2 separate regions of the Homo sapiens genome follow, and region 2 is linked to region 1. The links come from fine-mapping of genetic effects on gene expression. A gene starts in region 1. The other region holds a variant in brackets. All regions are shown on one strand. Distances are between the middles of the regions.

Region 1 (5,378 bases):
AGAGTCTAGTCAGATGTTGAAGAGAGGTCTAATCTCTCTGACTCACTTCCCACAAACAATCTCTGTTGTTTTCTGGCTTCTGAATCCAAAGCTGCATTCCACTGGCCTCAACTCCCCATCGCTTTTAGGAGGCTGAGGGAACAACTGGCTCCTGCTTAGCAGAAACCCTGGGGCAGGACTGCCTAGGAGCCTGAGACCGGGGCAGGGTTAGAGTAAAGGGAACAGTCTCACTACAGCAGTCCACTTTGATCTGTTTTTGAATTTTAAGATTCAGAGACAGATTTGATTTGAGAAACGGCTGTCAGTGCTGAAAATATTAAAAGCTTGAAAATTGCCAATCCTGTTTAATCCCTTACACTTTAATGTGGAAAATGGGGTATAAAGAGGCAACGGGACTTTTGGAGATCACAGTGAGTGACATACAGAGCTATAAACTGACCCTGCAGCTCCTGGCTTCTATTTCAGTGCCCTGATACCTACACCATAGAGTCATTCCATTGTAAGAGGTACTTAATAAGTGGAGTTTCCCACTCCATTCTGTGAGTGGGAAAACACCCCCTGAATCACATATTGGCAGAGCCAAATGCAGGGTGGGTTTTGCTTTGCAAAAAGGCCCTTAGAGTTTGGGAGAATTTCACAGACTGGGAGGGCACTTCTCCCAAATCAAGCGAGCTTGCAAACCACAATTTAAATGCCTGTGACATTACCACACTGAAGACAGGAGCGAGCCGCCAGGAGGTCCAGCACCTCTGCCCAACCACATCAGACAGGTTAGCTTTGCTGGGACGCAGAGTATAGGGCGGTGCAGAAAGATCCATGTTTCAGGGTCAGACAGTCCCAGGTTTGGTCTATGCTCTGCTGTGTAATTTTGGGCAAAGTAATTGACCTTTCAGTGTTCATTTCATAATCTACAAAATAGGCATGATATCTCTAACTTGCAAGGCTGTGGAGATTATTGATAGGGATAAGGTAGGTGTCTGGCACCAAGTAGCTGCACAGTAAACATGTAGCTACTTTTATTACTATTAGGAGTGGGGCTGGGTTGGAACGAGATGTCCTGGCACAGCTCTGTGCCTTCTGCACCTCACCAGATGGGAATATGAGCTCAAACCCTTGTGGGCCACAGGGTTTTCCAAGATTTCTGAAGTGGAGTCCCTGCCTTCCAGCAGGTTATGTGGTGGAGGAAAAACAAAATAATCACCACCGGGCTGCCAGAGTAGAGGGGTGGACCAGGTGCTGTCAGAGGGACTGTGTCTCTGAGTCAAGGGTGGTTTCATGGAAGAGGGGACAGTGAAGGATAAGAAGTGTTTCAGATTTAATATGAAAGTATCTCCTCCCATGGAAGGCAACATCCCCAAACTGGGAGTAACTGAAGTTGGGCCCTGAGCACTGCTACCAGGAGGGGCTATGAGCTTCATGTGCCACCCCCCACCCCTGCAAGTTGTACTATGCTGAGGATTCCAGAGGCTGTGGGTCTTCGCACAGAGGCTTAGGACCTGCTGCCAGCCCTGGCAGGCTCTGCCACTGGCCAGGGAGGAGGCAGTCAGGAGAGCCAGCTAGATAGAAGGTGGCCAGAACTGAGAAATCCAAAGCCCCACAAAGGCCCAGGAGAGCAGCTGTCATGCAGTTCTGAAAAGAGATGAAGTGTTTATTCAGCCAACCCACATTTCTTGAATATCTACTATGGGCCTGCTGAAGTGCTAGACACAGGGATTAAAGAGAAGAATGAGACCCCAGCCTTGCCCTGGGGCTTTGAAGAGCCTGATCGCCTCTGGGGTTAGCCATTTAGACGTAGGAGAAGCTGCCATTCCCAGAATCCTAGAATATCTTGGCTAAGAGTCTTCTTAAAGTTTGCTGATTGTATCACTGAAACAAGGGTGAAACTGGGCTCAGAGAGGGGTAGACACAGGCCCAGGATCACGCAGTGGGTCAGCGGCAGATCTGGGGGAAGGTCTCCAGCAGCCCAGTCCTCAGTGCCCACCATGACACCTCCATACTTTAAGGATAGATATCAAATCTGTTTCCCAGCAGGTTGGGCTTGTGGAGAGCTTTGGGTGAGCCAGACTCTGGGCCTGGCTGCTGTTGGTAGCAGGATGGTTAAGTATGTGGGCTCTGGAGTCTGATAGATGTGGGTACAAATCCTAGTTCTGTAGCTTTCTAGTTGTGTGACCTCAGTTTCTTCGTTTAGTAAATGGGGACTAGAACCGACCTCAATGGGTTGTTGTAAGAAATGAATGGGTCAGGCCGGGCGTGGTGGCTCACGCCTGTAATCCCAGCACTTTGGGAGGCCGAGGTGGGCGAATCACCTGAGCTCGGGAGTTCGAGACTAGCCTGACCAACAGGGAGAAACCCCATCTCTACTAAAAATACAAAAATTAGCAGGCGTGGTGGCACACGCCTGTAATCCCAGCTAGTTGGCAGGCTGAGGCAGGAGAATCGCTTGAACCCGGGAGGCGGAGGTTGCAGTGAGCTGAGATCGCGCCATTGCACTCCAGCCTGGGCAACAAGAGCGAAACTCCGTCTCAAAAATAAATAAATAAATAAAATAAATGAATGGTCAATGCACGCAACGCTTAGTACAAAACGGCTGTTATTGTTTTCACCTCCCTACCCCCCCACCAACCACCACCCGCACCTCGGGTTCTGCATCGATGGAGTCTGCCCAGGCGGTATCCGAGAGGGTGAACCCCAGAGAAGAGGTGCGGAGCCCCGAACCCGGGCCCCCAACCTCGGCTGCAGCGGGATAATCCAGCCCAAACAAACGCTCCACGGGACTCCGTGCACGGCTGCACCGCCAGGGCTTCAGGCGCACAGCACAATCTGGGGACGCAGGACTCTTGGTGCCACAGTCCCCGCCTCGCCCTGGAGCCGCCCTCCAGGCCCGCTATCTCCCCGCATCCAGCCCCCGCTCACCTGCCTCCCTAAGGGCTCCCGGCCGCTGCTCCTGTCACCGCTGTCTCCCGCTCCGGTCTCCCACAGACCGCGTAAGAGCGGGGGGGGCTCACCCGGAAGCAGCTTCCCCACGGTCCGCCCCCTCCACAGTCCAGGCCACGCCCCCTGAAGGCGGTCTTCTGGGGGGCTCCTCCGCTCCAGCCGCGGCCCCGCCCACACGCAACGAGGCCTGGCCAATTGGGTGTGTCGAGGGCCTGGAGGGCCCGCCCGTCCCCGCTCCGGGCCCTGCGCTTGTGCAGCGAACTGCAGGAGGGAGGCCACGAGGGGGCGCAGGAACCGCTTGGGAGGGTCCCTGGGTGTGAGCCGGCCTCGGAGGCGGTTACAGCCCAGGTTTCACTTCACAGCATTCCTTTGCCCAGCCTAGGGCAAACTTGGCTCTGGTTAATGGCTTGGTGAAAGAATAATTGGATGTCAAAGCCGTTAAAACAGCACCATTATGCCTAACACAGTATTAGCTAAGTCCATTTTTGCGGACTAAGCTAAAGTTGTTGAGTTCAGCGCCAGGCTTCCAAGTTTTCAGAGAAAATTTGTACCAGCTTCATTTATTTCTCAGGGTACGGCAATGCTATGAGTTGAGAGATGTGATGTGAAAGACATGGGCGTTTAGGAAAACTCCAAGTCTTGATAGGGGCATCAGACCTATGATAGGTACAATGATAGATCCGATCAAAGGTCTTTATGGAGATTGGAGATGTGCAGAGGCAAGAGGGATCTGGTGAGGCTTATGGGGCCTGGGTAAACCAGTAGGATTGGATGAGTAAAATGGCGATCGGGCATCATCGCCCTAGCGAAGCAATGCCTTTCAGGTGGTTCTTCAGGGATTATTGAAAAGTTGACTTTCAAATGTAGAGGACACTAGTGGGTTACATTACACTTATTCTCAGATTTTATTTCTCAGCCCGGTTCGGTGGCTCACGCCTGTAATCCCAGCACTTTGGGAGGCCAAGGCGGGCGGATCTCTTGAGGTCAGGAGTTCAAGACCAGCCTGACCAACATGGTGAAACCCTGTCTCTACTAAAAATACAAAAAATTAGCCGGGCGTGGTGGCGGGCTCCTGTAATCCCAGCTACTCGGGAGGCTGAGGCAGGAGAATCGCTTGAACCCGGGAGGCGGAGGTTGTAATGGGCTGAGATCATGCCACTGCATTCCAGCCTGGGTGACAGAGGGAGACTCTGTCTCAAAAAAAAATTTTTTTTTAAATTTCTCAAAATCTGTACCCCAAACCTGTTGTATACTTTATATTTTAAATTTAAGGGGCCTAGCGGCGTAAGGCTAGGGAAATATGACACTGCTTAGTTTCCAGCTACTGGAGTTCTGATCTGTATTCAACAAGGAAGGGGATAGAAAGCAAATAATGTTTGCTGTGCATTAAAGAGTCAGGGACAGTACCATGCATTTTACATTCATTTATCTAATCTTGACAGCAACGATGTTACTATTCTCACTTTACGGATTGGGAAAACAATTGCCAGCTAGATTAAATAATTTGCCCCATGTTACACTGGGCTCTCTCTGCAATGCCTGCTAATAACCACACTCCATAGGGGCAATTATTATTTGTTTTTTCCTAGATTCCCTGCCCGACATTTCTTTCCTGACACTCATTCCTTCCCTGAGGTTATTGGTAACTAAAAATAATTAGAACCATCTAAGAACCCAAATAGAACGGGAAATTTTAAAATGTTGCTGTTTGGTGTAGCTTATTTCCCCCATGTCTTTTCTTCTTCTTGACTGAAAGACCTGTTCCCACTCTCCCCCCAGCCTCCACCTTTTGAAACATTTTACCTTAATCTTTCAGTATTGTGAATGCAATAATATGAATAAATCTTAAACATATTGTTGAGTAAAAGAAGTGAGACACAAAATAGTATATAATATGATTTCATTTATATTAACTACACAATCAAGCAAAATTAAGCTGTGTTGTTAGGACTCAGAATAGTGATTTCCACTGGGGAGATGGGGAGGATTGAAAGGGAGATTAGGCTGGGTGTGGTGGCTCACACCTGTAATCCTAGCACTTTGGGAGGCCAAGGCTGGTGGATCGCTTGAGCCCAGGAGTTCAAGACCAACCTTGGCAACATGGCGAAACAGTCTCTACAAAAATTACAAAAAGTAGCTGGGCATGGTGGTGGACACCTGTAGTCCCAGCTACTTGGGAGGCTGACATGGGAGGATTGCTTGAGCCTGGGAGGTCAAGGCTGCGGTAAGCTGTGATCGTACCACTGCACTCCAGCCTGGATGACAGAGCAAGACCCTGTCTCCAGAAAAAAAAAAAAAAAAAAAAAAAAAAAAGGCGGCAGGGGGAGACTAAAGAGGTTTCTTTGGATGCAGTTAATGTTTATTGGTCTGGGTGTGAGTTACATGGCTGTGTTTAATTCGTGAAAATTCATTAAGCTCCACACTTATTTGTGTCTTTTAGTATG
Region 2 (5,378 bases), 56 kb after region 1:
ACTAAAAATACAAAACTTAGCCAGGTGGGGTGGTGCACACCTGTAGTCCCAGCTACTTAGCAGGCTGAGGCATAAGAATCACTTGAACCTGGGAGGTGGAGGTTGCAGTGAGCTGAGATCTTGCTACTGCACTCCATCCTGGGCGACAGAGCGAGACAGTATCAAAAAAACAAAACAAAACAAAACAAAACAAAAACCAAAATCAAAAACAGTTTGATCCTTTTGGGTCTTGCTTTTAAACTTTTTTTTTTTTTTTTTTTTTTAGATGGACAAGTACAGCATTTAATCTAGGGTTGATTATTCCCCACAACTGAGGGAAGACCCTTCTGAGTATTCTATCTAATACCTCCTAAGGAATTAGAAGGTCTTTCCACTCTGGTTGATGAGCTTAAGAACTATTCCTGGCCCTGTGTGAGCTTTAAAGATTGTTCCCTGTAATTCTTTGGTGGTTCTTTCCCCAGCCTTGGGATACTTTCCTCAAACCCATGAGCTCATTAGCACTTAGCTGAAGTTGTGAGTGGGGACTCTCTGGAGACCTCTGGGGCCCTCTCTTTGTGTGACTGTCTCCTCTCTGGTACTCTGCCTTGGAACTCTAGCTGCCTTGGCCTCCCGAACTTCTCAGTTCAGGGATTTGGAGTTGGCCTGAGTTCCCTCTCCCTTTTGGAAAGTCTCTCCCGGGAATAAGCTGGGCTGATCACAGGGCACAGCTTGTCTCTTTTCTGTTTCTCAGGGATCACTGTCCTTCGTTGCCTGATGTACAATATCTTAAAAACCATTGTTTCATATATTTTGTCCAGTCTTTTAGTTGTTTCAGGTGAAGGGAAAATCCAGTTCCTGTTATTCCATCTTGGCTGGAAACAGAAGTCTATATTGTTTTTTAATTTTGAAAAACTGAGGGCCTCTGGAATGTAGGATTATGCCAGGCCAAGTTGCTCATTATCAGGCCAGGAAAAGCAGCTCTTGAAGAGGCTGAAAGGGCTTCCAGCCTAACTGCGAGGGTGCTGAGTCATTCTAGCAGAGACCAGGCACTCTGCTTTTCTGGCTCTTATCAAGTCTTTAGCTTTTATCTTTGGACTCAACTTACTAGTTCACATTCCTTTGGTGGTGAAGGTTTGGTCTCTTCCACTTTGAAGCAGTATCTCTCCGCTTACACTTGAAATCTTGAATCTTTTACTTGGTTCTCTTTAGTCCCTGTTTGTGTATTTAGGTCACTAGAGGCTTCTACATCTGGGGCACATTAAAGTTCCTCAGTGGTATTTACAGCAACCAGCATCTGTTTCTGTAGAGAACAATTAACCCAAAGATACCACCTTGTTCTACCTTGAAGATGAATTACAGAGACACTTTTAAAAGGCAAATCCTTCATTTCAAGGGTGAATAAAATACCACTTAACAAAGCATTCCAGCTGGTTAAATTTAGGACATGAAAAAAACCTGACCCAAGAATATCGTCTGGCTTTGAGTCCAGGGTGTTTTTCCTTTTAGAGTAAATTTGGTACCTTTTCATTCATGTGAAGTTGTTGCCCCCCAGCATTTTATTCTGGGATGAAAGGTCAACAGGGACTGTCTTGTTGCTAAATCTAATGGACACTTCTCAGTTATTAAACCTACTGGACCTCTTAACAATATTTGACACTGTTGACTATTATTTCCTTCTTAATACATCCCCTGACTTTTCCTTCCCCTTTCAGGCCTTTCTTCCTCTGCCTGTTTTTTCAGTTGGTACTACTCTTGGTTCTGTCCTGAGCTTTCTCACATTAAACATTCCCTGTGGGCTGTCTTATGCATGCTCATGGCCTCACAGGGAATTCCTAAATCTATATTTCTAGCCTAAGTATTTTTTGCTGAGCTTCAGACCATTATGTTCAACTGTTCACTTGACATCTTCACTTGGATGGCACATGGGTCACCCAACCTTAGCAGGCTCACAGTTGAACTCATCCATTCTCCCCTCAGTTCAGCCCTGCCTCTCATGTTCTTCATTTCTGCAAAGGGCACTTCTAAACAATTTCTCAAGCCAGAATTCCTTGCATTCCATCTTCTACTCAATCACCATGGCCTGTTGATTCTATCTCTTTCCATCCCTATTGCCACTTCCCTAGTTTGGTCATTGTCATCTTTTACCTGGATGACCAGAAAAGACTTCTAAGAGCAATTTTTGCTTCCGACCCTCATGTCATGCAAACGCCTCCACCCCTAACCAATTTGTTTTTTTTTTTTTCGTATTCTAGCCAGAGCAATCTTTCTAAAATGTGAATTAAAGGCTGTTGGGATCTTGCTTAAAATATTTGACAACTGCTCTATGCTCTTAAAATAAAGCCCAATCTCCTTATAATAAAATATGCAGCCCTATATGATTTATTTATTTTTTTTTTGAGACAGAGTTTCGCTTTTGTCTTCCAGACTGGAGTACAATGCGATGATCTCAGCTCACTGCAACCTCTGCCTCCGGGTTCAAGCCATTCTCCTGCCTCAGCCTCCCGAGTAGCTGGGATTACAGGCATGCGCCACCACACTGGCTAATTTTGTATTTTAGTAGAGATGGGTTTCACCATGTTGGCCAGGCTGGTCTCAAACTCCTGAACTCAGGTGATCCACCTACCTCAGCCTCCCAAAGTGCTGGGATTACAGGCGTGAGTCACCGCGCCTGGCCGAGGCC[C/T]TGTATGATTTGGCCCCTGTTTACTTTCTTGCATATTACTGATTCCCTCACGTTCTAAGTTCCCTGCCACATTTCCCATTGTTCAGTTCCTCAAACGTACAACGCCCCCTCTCACTTTCTGGCCTTTACATGTTTTGTTCTTTCTGCCTGTAACCCTTCCTTCCTCTCCTATACTTGGCTAAATCATACTGCAGGTGATTTTCTTTGGGCAGTCTTCCTTGACCCCCTTTATCATCTTGGTTTGCCTAGCTCCCCAGATTAAGTGAAATGTTATTCTATGCTTCCAGAGGTTGCTGTGTTTCCTCTATTGTAATGCTTACCCAATCTCCCACTTGACTATAAACTCCATCTTTTTCACTGCTATATGTATCCCCAGTGCCCAGTTATAAGGCTCAGCTCCATAGGTGCTTAGCAAACACTTGTTGAATTGAACTTTAATGTGTCAGTAGCCACAGAAGTCTCAGTCCTGCTAGACCGTAGCCTTGCCACTTTGAGCAAGAGGACTGCTGGGAGAGATGGTATTCTATAATGGTTCTCTTGCTGGGAGCTGGATTTTTATTTCCCCACTGTTTATTTACTAGTTTAGCAACCTGATTCAGTTAACAACTCTGCATCTTAGTTGCTTCATATATAAATACAAATGCTTGAACTTTCTGAAAGCAAATGGTGGGCCAGATTTTTTTTTCTTTTTCATTTCCTTGGTTACTAGAAAACCCAGGTAGCTTTTGAGGCAATTTCTATAAGACCTTCAAGAAACAGATGATGCCAATGCAATTTTGGCTATTTCAGAACCCAGGAAAAAAATGAAGATTTGTCAGTGCTAGGTAGGAAGCTAGACAGAGACAAAAACCAAATAAGGTTAGAAACAGGAAACTATAGACAAAAGGTCAAAGGTAAAAATCTCTTCATAGACCAATTTGACTGATGCCTATAGATGTAAAAATACTAATAAAATATTAGCAAATCAAATCCCACAGTGTATGCATGATCGAGTCAGTAGAGACGGGGTTTCACCATGTTGCTCAGGCTGGTCTCAAACTCCTGACCTCAAGCGATCCGCCTGCCTTGGCCTCCCAAAGTCCTGGGATTACAGGCGTGAGCCACTGTGCCTGGCCAAATTCATTTTTTTAGTTAAAAACATTTTACATTTTTCTGGCCATAGAAAAGTCTTTAACTTTAAAAATTTTCACCCAACCATTTGAAAATGTAAAATGCATCCTTAGCTCACCTGTTGTACAAAAACAGGCAGCCAGCCAGATTTGGTTGGTAGGCCATAGTTTGCCAACCCCTGCACTAATATGTTCACTAAATTTGAACCATTTTTGCATCTCTAGGATAAATACCAACTTGATCATGAATATACTGTTGGATTTGATTTGCTTGTATTTTATTAGTATTTTTACATTTATATTCATAAGTCAGATTGGGCTATGTAGAAATTTCAAACTAGCTGTGGGGTATAGATGTATTCTATTTAGCCTTCATAACATTTTAAAACATTTTGAATGAGTTATTAATATTAACAAATTGGGAAATATTACATGGATTATTTAAGATTGCTGGCTTTTCTTTAAAAAAAAGTGACAAAACTGGGAGAATGTTGGCCTAGTTTCGCCACATTTTAATAGATCTGCTCTATTGTATATTTTCTTTCTTTTTTCTTTTTTTGAGACAGAGTCTTGCTCTGTTGTCCAGGCTGGAGCACAGTGGCATTATCTTGGCCCACTGCAACCTCTGCCTCCCGGGTTCAAGTGATTCTCATGCCTCAGTCTCCCGAGTAGCTAGGACTACAGGCGCATGCCACCACACCTGACTATCTTTTGTATTTTTAGCAAACATGGGTTTCACCATATTGATCAGGCTGGTCTTGAACTCCTGACCTCAGGTGATCCATCCATCTTGGTCTCCCAAAGTGTTGGGATGACAGGCATGAGCCACTGCATCCAGCCTCTATTGTATATTTTCTATTTAATTAACTTCTATTCTTACTTTTATCTTTTACCTTTGGTCTATAGTTTTCTGTTTCTAACCTTACTTGGTTTTTGTCTTTGTCTAGCTTTCTACCTAGCGCTGACACATCTTTGTTTTTTCCTATGTTCTGAAATAGTTAAAACTACATTAGCATCATCTGTTTCTTGAAGATCTTATAGAATTAGCCTCTTAAAACTATCTGGATTTTCTATAATTTTGTCGAATAGAGTTTTGGTTTCCTTTTCTATTTTATCTATAGTTAGTGATCTATTAAAAATTTCAAACTTTTTATCAATTTTACTAATTAATACTTTCTAGAAAATCATCCAGTTCCTTTCAGATTTTCAAATTTATACAATAAGGTTGCAGTGGTTTTCTCTTATAATTTAAAATATTAGCCAGCACGGTGGTTCACGCCTATAATCCCAGCGCTGTGGGAGGCCAAGGTGTACGGTTCACTTGAGGTCAGGAGTTCGAAACCATCCTGGCCAACATGGTGAAAACCTGTCTCTACTAAAAATACAAAAATTAGCTAGGTGTGGTGGCGCGTGCCTGTAGTCTCAGCTACTTGGGAGGCTGAGGTATGAGAATCGCTTGAACCTGGGAGTGAGCTGAGATTGTGCCATTGCACTGCAGCCTGGGTGACAGAGCGAGATTCTGTTTCAAAAAAAATAAAAAAAAAGAGGCCGGGCTCAGTGGCTCACACCTGTAGTCCCAGCACTTTGGGAGGCTGAGGTGGGCAGATCAC

The links. PIP is the estimated chance that this variant, and not a neighbour inherited with it, causes the effect.
Region 2: its variant is the best candidate, but not a certain one, in a credible set for the expression of ALAD in whole blood (TOPMed, PIP 0.59).

The regions. Positions count from the first base shown.
Region 1 is chr9:113,398,299-113,403,676 of GRCh38, forward strand. ALAD (aminolevulinate dehydratase) reads right to left here and starts at 2,986. Exons shown (of 12, transcript NM_000031.6): 1 at 2,914-2,986. RefSeq lists an enhancer at 2,142-2,722 and silencers at 2,738-2,787, 2,938-3,297.
Region 2 is chr9:113,454,443-113,459,820 of GRCh38, forward strand. It overlaps a transcript of RGS3 not described here. Among named protein-coding and RNA genes, the nearest start is that of RGS3, 6.6 kb to the right of the region's middle. The variant C/T (reference allele first, on the strand shown) is at 2,660.